2 separate regions of the Homo sapiens genome follow, and region 1 is linked to region 2. The links come from fine-mapping of genetic effects on gene expression. A gene starts in region 2. The other region holds a variant in brackets. All regions are shown on one strand. Distances are between the middles of the regions.

The links. PIP is the estimated chance that this variant, and not a neighbour inherited with it, causes the effect. A credible set is the group of variants that fine-mapping cannot tell apart.
Region 1: its variant is the best candidate, but not a certain one, in a credible set for the expression of LINC00997 in visceral fat (GTEx, PIP 0.54).

Annotation. Positions count from the first base shown.
Region 1 is chr7:32,497,223-32,502,608 of GRCh38, forward strand. All of the region lies in intron 1 of AVL9 (AVL9 cell migration associated), which reads left to right. Among named protein-coding and RNA genes, the nearest start is that of AVL9, 4.4 kb to the left of the region's middle. The variant T/C (reference allele first, on the strand shown) is at 3,151.
Region 2 is chr7:32,755,183-32,760,568 of GRCh38, forward strand. LINC00997 (long intergenic non-protein coding RNA 997) reads left to right here and starts at 3,104. Exons shown (of 1, transcript NR_036501.1): 1 at 3,104-5,386.

The sequences.
Region 1 (5,386 bases), 260 kb before region 2:
CACATGCCTGTGATCCCAGCTACTTGGGAGGCTGAGGCACGAGAATTGCTTGAAGCCGGGAGGCAGAGGTTGCTGTGAGCCGAGATCACGCCATTGCACTCCAGCCTGGGCAACAAGAGCGAAAAAAAAAGTTTTGGAAAGTGTGTGTTACATGCATAAGTCTTAGAATGACTGGTCTAGAATCTGTTCTTTATAACCTGTACATCAGGTGTTTTCAGAGGCTTTAATTAAAGTATGTAAGATTTGCCCCAGGATAGATTAATCAGCTACCTAATTCTCCACTTTAACTATTTTACTTCCAGGTGTAAATTAAAGGTGCATGGCTCATTGAGTTGTGACTCTGACTTAACACGGTTTTAACTTGTGTGAGGGTACTTAGACTGCTCTTCCAAGTATTCAAAATTGCCGTGGGTCATGTTGACCATTAGTTCTTTTTTTTTTTTTTTTTCTTCAGATGGAATCTCACTCTCTCACCCAGGCTGGAGTGCAGTGGAGCTCGGCTCACTACAAGCTCTGCCTCCTGGGTTCACACCATTCTCCTGCCTCAGCCTCCCGAGTAGCTGGGACTACAGGCGCCCGCCACCGCGCCCGGCTAATTTTTTGTATTTTTAGTAGAGACGGGGTTTCACAATGTTAGCCAGGATGGTCTCGATCTCCTTACCTCGTGATCCGCCCGCCTCGGCCTCCCAAAGTGCTGGGATTACAGGCGTGAGCCACCACGCCCAGTCATGACCATTAGTTCTAAATGTGCGCTGAGATTGTGCATAGGGAAGATTCCTATACTTGGTCGTAATTTGTAACTTTTAAATAGAAGTGACTGAAGTAAAACCTTTGTTTTAAAAGTGATGCCTTTCAGCAGTCCGCTTGGTTAAGCATGATAACTTTGTCATTTGACATGGACCTCAAAGTAAAAGCCATCTTCTAATACTGCTGTGTTGAAGACCCAAAACTAGGCTTGTGGAAAATGTTAGTTCATTTTGTTTCTAGCACTTTTTCCACCTTTGAAGTCCTCAGATTTTTTTTTTTTTTTTTTTTTTTTGAGACGGAGTCTTGTTCTGTCACCCAGGCTGGAGTTCAGTGCAGTGGCGCGATCTCCACTCACTGCAACTTTCACCTCCTGGGTTCAAGTGATTCTCCTGCCTCAGCCTCCCAAGTAGCTGGGATTACAGGCATGCACCACCGTACCTGGCTAATTTTTTATATTTTTGGTAGAGACGGGGTTTCACCATGTTGGTCAGGCTGGTCTAGAACTCCTGACCTCAAGTGATCCACCCGCCTTGGCCTCCCAAAGTACTGGGATTACAGGCATCAGGCCAGATGTATTTTAAATGAAAAATTCCTTCATTTGAATTTAAATGAACATCTATTAACTTTATCACTTGATCTTTTTTTTTTTTTCACTTTTATTTGGGTAACTTGTGGAAGTAAATTCTTCTGTAGATAGCGTGTTAGCTTCTAGATGTCATTTTTCTAGTTTACTGATATACTTAACATTTAGAACATTTTAAGTGATTTTTTTGAGTTCTACCATAACATTTAAAGTTGTTTCAAAATATTTACTCATTTCAACTTTTTACTGAATTGTTTAAAATTTAATATTTAACAAGGGATAATAATTAACAAGGGATAATTTAACATTTAACAAGGGATACTAAGTGTGGCCGGGTGCAGTAGCTCATGCCTGTAATCCTAACACTTTGGGAGGCCGAGGCGGGTGGATCACCTGAGGTGAGGAGTTCGAAACCAGCCTGGACAACACGGTGAAACCCCGCCTCTACTAAAAATACAAAATTAGCTGCGCGTGGTGGCACATGCCTGTGATCCCAGCTACTTGGGAGGCTGAGGCAGGAGATTTGCTTGAATCTGGGAGGCGGAGGTTACAGTGAGCGAAGATCTGCCTACTGCACTCCAGCCTGGGCGACAATGAGTCCCTGTCTCAAAACGAAACAAAACAAAAATTTATCTGACATTAGACCCTTTGGCATGAAATAATTTATGGATACCTTCTCTGTAGTAAATTGGCTTGTTATAGATTGTGTATTCCAGAGTTTTGTTTGTTCCAATATATAAATTATACTTGTCGGACTACCAAAATTTTTTGCTAAGTAGCATCAAATATATATCACATTAACTCTGTTTTTTTTTTTCATAAACAGGTTAGAACTTTTTTAACTACTCAAGTTAAAAGGGAATAGGTTATTTTCCAAAGTGATGTCATAAAAAGTTGAAATAATTACTTAATTTTTGGCCACTTTTCTGATAGTTTATTGTTTTGTATACATAGCTAGCAGTTTTAAGTCTTAAGTAAACTGGATTTACCAAACTGTATTTCTAATACAAAAAAGGCAGAATAACAATTTTTTTTTTTAATTATACTTTAAGTTCTGGGATACATGTGCGAAACATTCGGGTTTGTTATATAGGTATACATGTGCCATGGTGGTTTGCTGCATCCATCAACCAGTCATCTAGATTTTAAGCCCCATATGCATTAGGTATTTGTCCTAATGCTTTCCCTCCCCTTGCCTCCCATCCCCCAACAGGCACCAGTCTGTGATGTTCCCCTCCCTGTGTCCATGTGTTCTCATTGTTCAACTCCCACTTATGAGTGAGAACATGTGGTGTTTGGTTTTGTGTTCCTGTGTTAGTTTGCTGAGAATGATGGTTTCCAGCTTCATCCATATCTCTGCAAAGGACATGAACTCATTCTTTTTCATGGCTGCATAGTATTCCATGGTGTGTATGTACCACATTTTCTTTATCCAGTCTATCATTGATGGGCATTTGGGTTGGTTCCAAGTCTTTGCTATTGTGAATAGTGCTGCAATAAACGTGTCTGTGTGTGTCTTTATAGTAGAATGATGTATAATCCTTCGGGTATATACCCAGTAGTGGGGTTGCTGGGTCAAATGGTATTTCTGGTTCTAGATCCTTGAGGAATCACCACACTGTCTTCCACAATGATTGAACTAATTTACACTTCCATCAATAGTGTAAAAGCATTCCTATTTCACATCCTCTCCAGCATCTGTTGTTTCCTGACATTTTAATGATCACCATTCTAACTGGCATGAGATGGTATCTCATGGTTTTGATTTGCATTTCTCTAATGACCAATGATGATGAGCTTTTTTTCATATGTTTATTGGC[T/C]GCACAGATATCTTTTGAGAAGTGTCTGTTCATATCCTTCGCCCACTTTTTGATGGGGTTGTTTTTTTTCTTATAAATTTGTTTAAGTTCCTTGTAGAGTCTGGATATTAGGCCTTTGTCAGATGGGTAGATTGCAAAAATTTTCTCTCATTCCATAGGTTGCCTGTTCACTCTAATGCTAGTTTCTTTGGTTTAATTAGAGCTCTTTAGTTTTTTTTTAATTTAAGCTCTTTAGTTTAATTAGATCCCATTTGTCAATTTTGTCTTTTGTTGCAATTGCTTTTGGTGTTTTAGTTACGAAGTCTTTGCCATGCCTATATCCTGAATGGTATTGCCTAGGTTTTCTTCTGGGGTTTTTATGGTTTTAGGTGTTAGTTTAAGTCTTTAATCCATCCTCTGTTAATTTTTGTATAAGGTGTAAGGAAGGGGTCTAGTTTCAGTTTTCTGCATATGGCTTGCCTGTTTTCCCAGCACCAGTTATTAAATAGGGAATCTTTTCCCCATTGCTTATTTTGTCAGGTTTGTCAAAGAGCAGATGGCTGTAGATGTGTGGTGTTATTTGTGAGACCTCTGTTCTGTCCCGTTGGTCTATATGTCTAAAAAGCAGAAGTATAAAAGAGCTAGAACTAATCTTAACACTAGTTCCACCAGTGAGTAAAGCAACCAGCAGCAGTGAAGAAAATGGCAGATTTTCCTGTTGGTGTGAGTGGACTGGTCACAAGAAAGTCTCCATGGGGTAGCAGAATGTTGCATTGCAAATTTAGAAATGGGTTGATATTAGGGGGATTGTTTATGTTGGAGTGCTACAACTATACTCAAGCCCTGAGTGATTCAGGTTTTGGTGACAGATGACTCACTGACAAGCCTTTTTTGGCAACTGCTATTAATGAAATCCTGTGGTGACAATAATGAAACATTTGGGAGGGTTTGTTTGATTCTTGTTGCAATAAGTAGTTCTTTGGAACAAGAAAGAAGAAAACTGAAGGGTTAGCAGTTAGGGAAGAATAACCTTTTAAGATTCTTTTTAGCTGCTAGTTTTACAGAAACTTTGTTCTGAAACAAGATTGCATTTTCTGGCCCTTCACTGCACTTTTATTTCTTCAACTTTAATATTTTGGTAGATGGTTTTTCCTGATTTTGGCCATGCTTTTTGTATATGCTGAAATTATGAAAATCTCTGACTTAGCAGGGCTGCAGCATTGACAGAACAATGGAATAGTTTTCATTCAGGCTTTGGCATTGTGGCTAAGCGGAGTGGGTGTCAACTTGTGTACTAGAACTTTGAAATATCAGGAAGATTCCTTTGTTCTCTTATGGGTCCTCCCAGCTAGCAAGAATGTGCCTAATTTCTTTCTTTGGCTTAAGCCTTTGATCCCTAGTAAAATACTTATACACCATGAGTAATCATCTACTTCATGTCATTGATATGATTCAGATCCTTTGCTGAATGTAGATTTTTGCTAAAGGGAAGACTGCAGAAGGGCCCTAATCTACTAGGGATGGACAACAGAAAGATGCAGACACATAGGGAGAAGAGCCTACTTACCTACTTAATTTTAAGACTGCTCCTTTTTTATATGGATTAAGAACTCAGGTTCTCCCTAGGATATTTTTAGAGGATATTATCTAAGCTGATATTTTTGGCAGTTTTTAAATCATATTTCAGTATTTTTGAAAATAACATTTATGATAAAAAAAAAATATGTACTGGCCAGGCACAGTGGCTCATGTCTGTAATCCCAGCACTTTGGGAGGCCAAGATGGGAAGATCGCTTGAGCCCAGGAGTTCGAGACCAGCCTGGGCAACATAGGGAGACCTCATCTTTGCCAAAAAGTAAAAAAATTAGCCAGGTTTGGAGGTGCATGCCTGTAGTCCCAGCTACTTGGGAGGCTGGTGTGAGTGCACTGGTCACAAAAAAGTGAAGCAGGAGTATCACTTGAGCCCAGCAGGTCGAAGCTGCAGTGAGCCGAGATGGCACCACTGCACTCCAGCCTGGGTGAGAGAGTAAAACCCTTTCTCAAAAAAAAAAAAAAAAAGAAAGAAAAGGTATCAAACCATAATCATGTTTCATGGCCTACCTTTTTCATGTGAAATATACCATTAATATTTTTCTGTATTAGTAAATAATTGAATTATATTTTAAAATTGCTAAATAGTATTTTGTAGAAATACTTTTATTTAACTGATCTCCTTTTTAGATACTTAGGTGGCATTCTAATTTTTCACTATTTTGAA
Region 2 (5,386 bases):
CTCCCTTTCTTAAAAAGATTGTGCTTACTATTTTTATCTGATAAAGAGGATCACTCTATAAATATATTATTTGTCTCAAATTATGACTCACCTCTGGATAAAGATGGAAGCATTTTACTGCATTAATTCCAAGAGGATTTCAGTAAGCCTGTCATTCATTATCGTCCCCAGTCCTTCCAAAAATGAAGGTGCTTCAATATTGGTCTCGAAGTAGGAATAAAAGTCCCTTTAAAAAAAAAAAAAAAAAAAGAAGGCACATGTTGTCAATGTAATTAAAACTTTAAAATATTTATTTTTATCACTTCTTTAGAACATTTTTTTCTGAAAAAAAAGGTCAATAATAAGACTTCCTAATTACGCCTCGCTATTTTGCATTCTTGGACTTTAAAAAGCACGTATTTTCAGGTGATCACTGTACTATTCTTTCAAGTTTTCTATAGGCTTTCAAACTAAAGAGTTGGAGGGATGGTCGAATGATTTAAAGAGTTTCTCTAATAATGTCTTAAAATGTGTAGACAGTATATGTTCAATTTTCCCAAATCTGGTTTTATCCCCCACATTTGAGATGCTTGAAGGTTGACATCTGATTAATTCTGTCATAAACAGGGATGCCTTCATGCCTCTGTACAACTTTGCATATAGAAAATTACTTCTTTTTTTCCCATGCTCTTAGGAAATAAAATATAATGACCATAAGCATCATGAGCAAGGAATCCAGTGCTTCTAGCTTAATTCATAGCTCCATCTAATCCTCTGTGCTAAGTGAAAGCTCAATGTTGATTGACTATTGTTGCTCACAAATACTATGTACTAAAAAGCAGATTATTTTAGTGTCTTACACTTCAGCATATAAAATAAAGGCTTCATTAGGATAGTAAAAGTGCTGTTGAGTTAAAATTCATGGATTAACAATAGCATGTTATGTCTTATTTCCCCATCAATTTCTTGCTTTCGCTCCTAAAATCTAAAAGCAAAAAAGGGCCACATTGTTTAAAATGCATTCTCCCTAAAAAATGCTATATGCTATAATCATATCTGCCTCATCCAACACGAGTAACTACTAAATTAAACGTCTGTTTTAGCTGATGTCTGAAAGGCCATTACCTCATAGTTGATTGGCAAAATATGAGTTCATAAAGAATTTTCCTTTCTGCTTAGGAGGATAAAGCAATACAATAATTAAAGGATATCTAATATGCAAAAGTCTATATTTAGGGAAATATTAAATATTCTCTTTAAAATGTTCAAATGTCATACATATGTTAATGTATCCAATGCTTTGAAACTTTATAGGGGCAATATAGGGATGAAAATTAAAAAGCAGTGACGGAGGGGCCTGGCATAGGCAAAATCATAGAGATAGAAAATAGAGCTGAGTGTGATTAGTGTTTAGTGGGTGGAGTTTCTGTTTGGGATAGCAAAAAGTTCTGGATGTGGACAGTGGTAATAGTTGCAAGACAACACGAATGTACTTAATGTCACTGAATTGTACGCTTAAATGATAACCATTGACATTTTTCTATTACAAACTTAAATCTAAATTTCACCATAATTTAAACAAAAAGCAATGGCTAGAGTGAGGAGAGTCAGCTTCAATGCTTCAGTAGGCCCCCGACCAGCTGGGAGCAGATCTGGAAGATGGACGGTTGTGGTGTCTTCTAAATGTAAAATTGCACAATTTTGGTATTCGCTATCCCATTTACTCCTCACAATAATTATGTGAGATGTGTATGGCAGAAAACTCCATTTTAAAGATTAAGTATCGAAAAACAGAAAAATATTTAAAAATTATATCAAAAGTCATCTCTTAAAAGAGATTATCTTGAAATCAAAAGAGAACCAAATAATAATCATCATCAGTAAAAGACCCAGTAAAACATGGGACCTCCCAACTGTAGCCAAAGAAAAAGCAATTTCTGATAACATCTCATTTCATTCCCCTTTATCACTTCTTCAGTGCTTTCTTTGTCCTCCTTCCTCAGCTACTATAATTCATCTTCATTATCTTAAAAAGAAGTCTGCATTAGGAAAGGGTGAGAGATAATGAAGTAACAGAAAAATAATCTCAAACACTTTACTATTTAAATAATAAACCTGGGTTATAGCTTATGAAACAGTGCAATGAAGTATCATATTACAATAAGAACAAGTTTCAAAACCAACATTAAAATAAGCGATAAGTAAGAAAGCCATAAAAAAGGAAACAATAAATTGTTATAATATTGTTTTTATAATTTGCTTACTAACTCGTATGTTTTTAGGCATTTATAATGCAGTATGGCACACACCTGAAATTCCTTAACTCAGTGGTTTTTAAACTTAATTGTTGCCGGGTGCGTTGGCTCATGCCTGTAATCCCAGCACTTTGGGAGCCCGAGGCGGGCAGATCACTTGAGGTCAGGAGTTTGAGACCAGCCTGGCCAACATGGTGAAACCCTGTCTCTACTAAAAATACAAAAATTAGCCAGCCATGGTAGTGCATGTCTGTAATCCTGGCTGCTAGGGAGGCTGAGGCAGAAGAATTGCTTGAACCCAGCAGGCGGAGGTTGCAGTGAGCAGAGATCATGCCACTGCACTCCAGCCTGGGCGACAGAGTAAGACTCTGTCTCAAAAAAAAAAAACCAACTTAATTGTATATCTAAAATTCTTGTGGCTTGTTTCACCCTTCCTTCCATCCCAGGCCTCTAAATCAGAACAGAGGCAGGTTAGTGTTTGTTTTTTAAGTTTCAAGTGATTCTAATGTACCAGCCTTGGGAAATACCTCCGTAACTGTTGAAAAGGGTTCAGAATATAATTTTAAATAAAATTACTTTAGATCAAAACAGACTTACAATAAGTATAATATCACATAAAGGATCAACTTTCAAGCGCCAAAGAATACAGGTGTGTACTTGAAGACCTTTTAGTAGTGAAACTCAGCAGCTGTAGGCAGTGAAGAAAGGAGCATATGTGATAAACAAAATTAGCTGTGGTCAACAATTATGCTATAGCTAACTTATGTAGTCAGTACTTTCCAGTGAAGTTGAAAATAAAGCAAAGTTCCATGTATTAACCCTGTTTTCCACTAACCCTTCTTTACATGTAGGACATATGCCAGGGTACCAAAAACTGCAGGAATATTCCCTAGCATTGCAGCCTCAGTTCTAATACCAAAATCTCCCTGCAGACTAAATGTCTAGAGCAGCACTGTATCAATAGAACATAGGGGCAGATCTCATACCTTCCAAGGGTAGAAATCGCTGAGCACAGGTAAAAATAAAATATTCCAGAGGGAAATATTATTTTACAAATTTTTATAAACACTTTTGTAAAATAATGTACACAGCCTTGCACACTGAAAGAGTCAAAGCCATTTAACTCTGTATAACCACTGCAGAATCTTTATCTTCTTTTTTACCTGACTTCCAATTGGCGGGTGTTACTAAAACTTTATCACCAAAGTTATTTCACTAGCTGAGCGTGGTGGCTCATGCCTGTAATCCCAACACTTTGGGAGGCCAAGGCAGGTGGATCATTTGAGGCCAGGAGTTTGACACCAACCTGGCCAACACGGTGAAACCTCATCTCCACTAAAAATACAACAAATTGGCTGGGTGTGGTGGCGCATACCTGTAATCCCAGCTACTCAGAAGGCTGAGGCACGAGAATCACTTGAGCCTGGGAGGCATAGGTTGCAATGAGTCAAGATCGCGCCACTGCACTCCAGCCTGGGAGACAGAGCAAGACTGTCTCAAAAAAAAAAAAAAAAGTTATTTCACTAGCAACATATAATTACCATAAAACAAAGGAGGGTTTTAAATGAACTACACATGCAAAATACACTAGAAAAGCTAGATATTTTTAAAAACGTGGTGAATTATTTGGTAAAGCCAAAATATTTTAATTCATAAGTTACTATTCCCCCAATGCATCTATTTTGTAAATGCTGTTTCACATATGAGGTTTGTAAAAAAGCAAAATATATGTATAAAATGGCGTACATAAAGATGTTCTACAAATATAGCCAGAAGTTATTGTTTTACTGTATGCAAAGAGTGATGGCAATTTTTAATTCAAATGTTTTTAAATATTTCGAACTGAAACTAAATCTTACCAATGTAAAATTGCCACAAAGACGGCTGGAAAAGAGAAAAGTTATTAAAAGCTGCTTTATTATAAAATACCATTAAAACAAGTATTTCAAATGTATTATTTTACATGTCTAGAAAAGATAGCACAGAAAGCAAGATGGCCAGCTAATCCTGTCTCTATGAGCATAGGAAAAAATCCAGGACACAAAGTAAATTCTGAACAGAGCTTACCTCTCTGCAGCAGGGCTTGACAAGCAAAGGGAGAGACTTGAGAGGGTTTTTTTACTTCAGTTAATTGGTAGGAGTGATGGAATTATGGAATATTGTGACCTTTTTTGTTTTTTTTTCTTTTTAGTATTCTATTCCTTTATATGAAATTTTTTAAAGAAGTAAATATATACAGTATGCTTCAGCTCGTTCTAACCAAGAGGTGCCACTCTAGATCAGTTTCTCTAGCATTCATCAGAAGACGATTAAATGCAGGCAATCACTTCCTCAGCAGCACATCTAAAAGCCCCATTGTGCAACTCAACCCTTGATGAATTGCAAGCTCTTTGCAAGCGCCCAGACTTAGGAACTACTAGATGGCCTAGGAGACTTATCTGGAGGCACCTGTGCCAGCACCCCATGTATACGTAAGACTTCACCAGGGAGCTGGGAGACACTGCTCTGGGTATGGAGCTTTTACCAGAGCTGCAAACGCAGCCTGTGCCCCTGTTTCGTTGGGGAATTGCTTGTTTTCAAGGGTACCATGGAGCTGGAGAGAGAAAAGTGGGGAATAGAACAAGTTAAAACACCACAGACTTTGCTGTTCTTATAGAGGTTCAGCAGCTTTTCTTGAATTAATGCCCTTTAGATTGTTGTAAACCTTTGGTTAACTTCCAAAGTTTTGAAGAAAATGATTTTGATAATTTTCCAAGTATTTTCATTGTCATCATGGAGGAGTGCATTTCCTTGGCTATTCCAGAAGTCCTACCTCCCTTCTGAGATTTTATAATGGTATTTCTTATGGTTATCCCAAATATACTTGGCAAGTCGTCTTATAAACCACCAATAATAGCCTCTTAAAAATTCAAAAATTACTCCTCTTGGCTAACAAAATAAATGCAAATTAATTTAATAATTGTTGAAGAAATTAAATTTTTTAAAATTAAAAAATTGCAATGTTGAAATTCTCAACCATGCTTATCCAGACCTTTTCCTATACTACTAACTGCCCTGGGCTTATCTTAAATACTTCTCAGAAGATTTACTTGTTTTACACCAGGATAGGCAAAGTATGGCCCACAGTGTATTTTTGGACTGTCTGCAAGCAC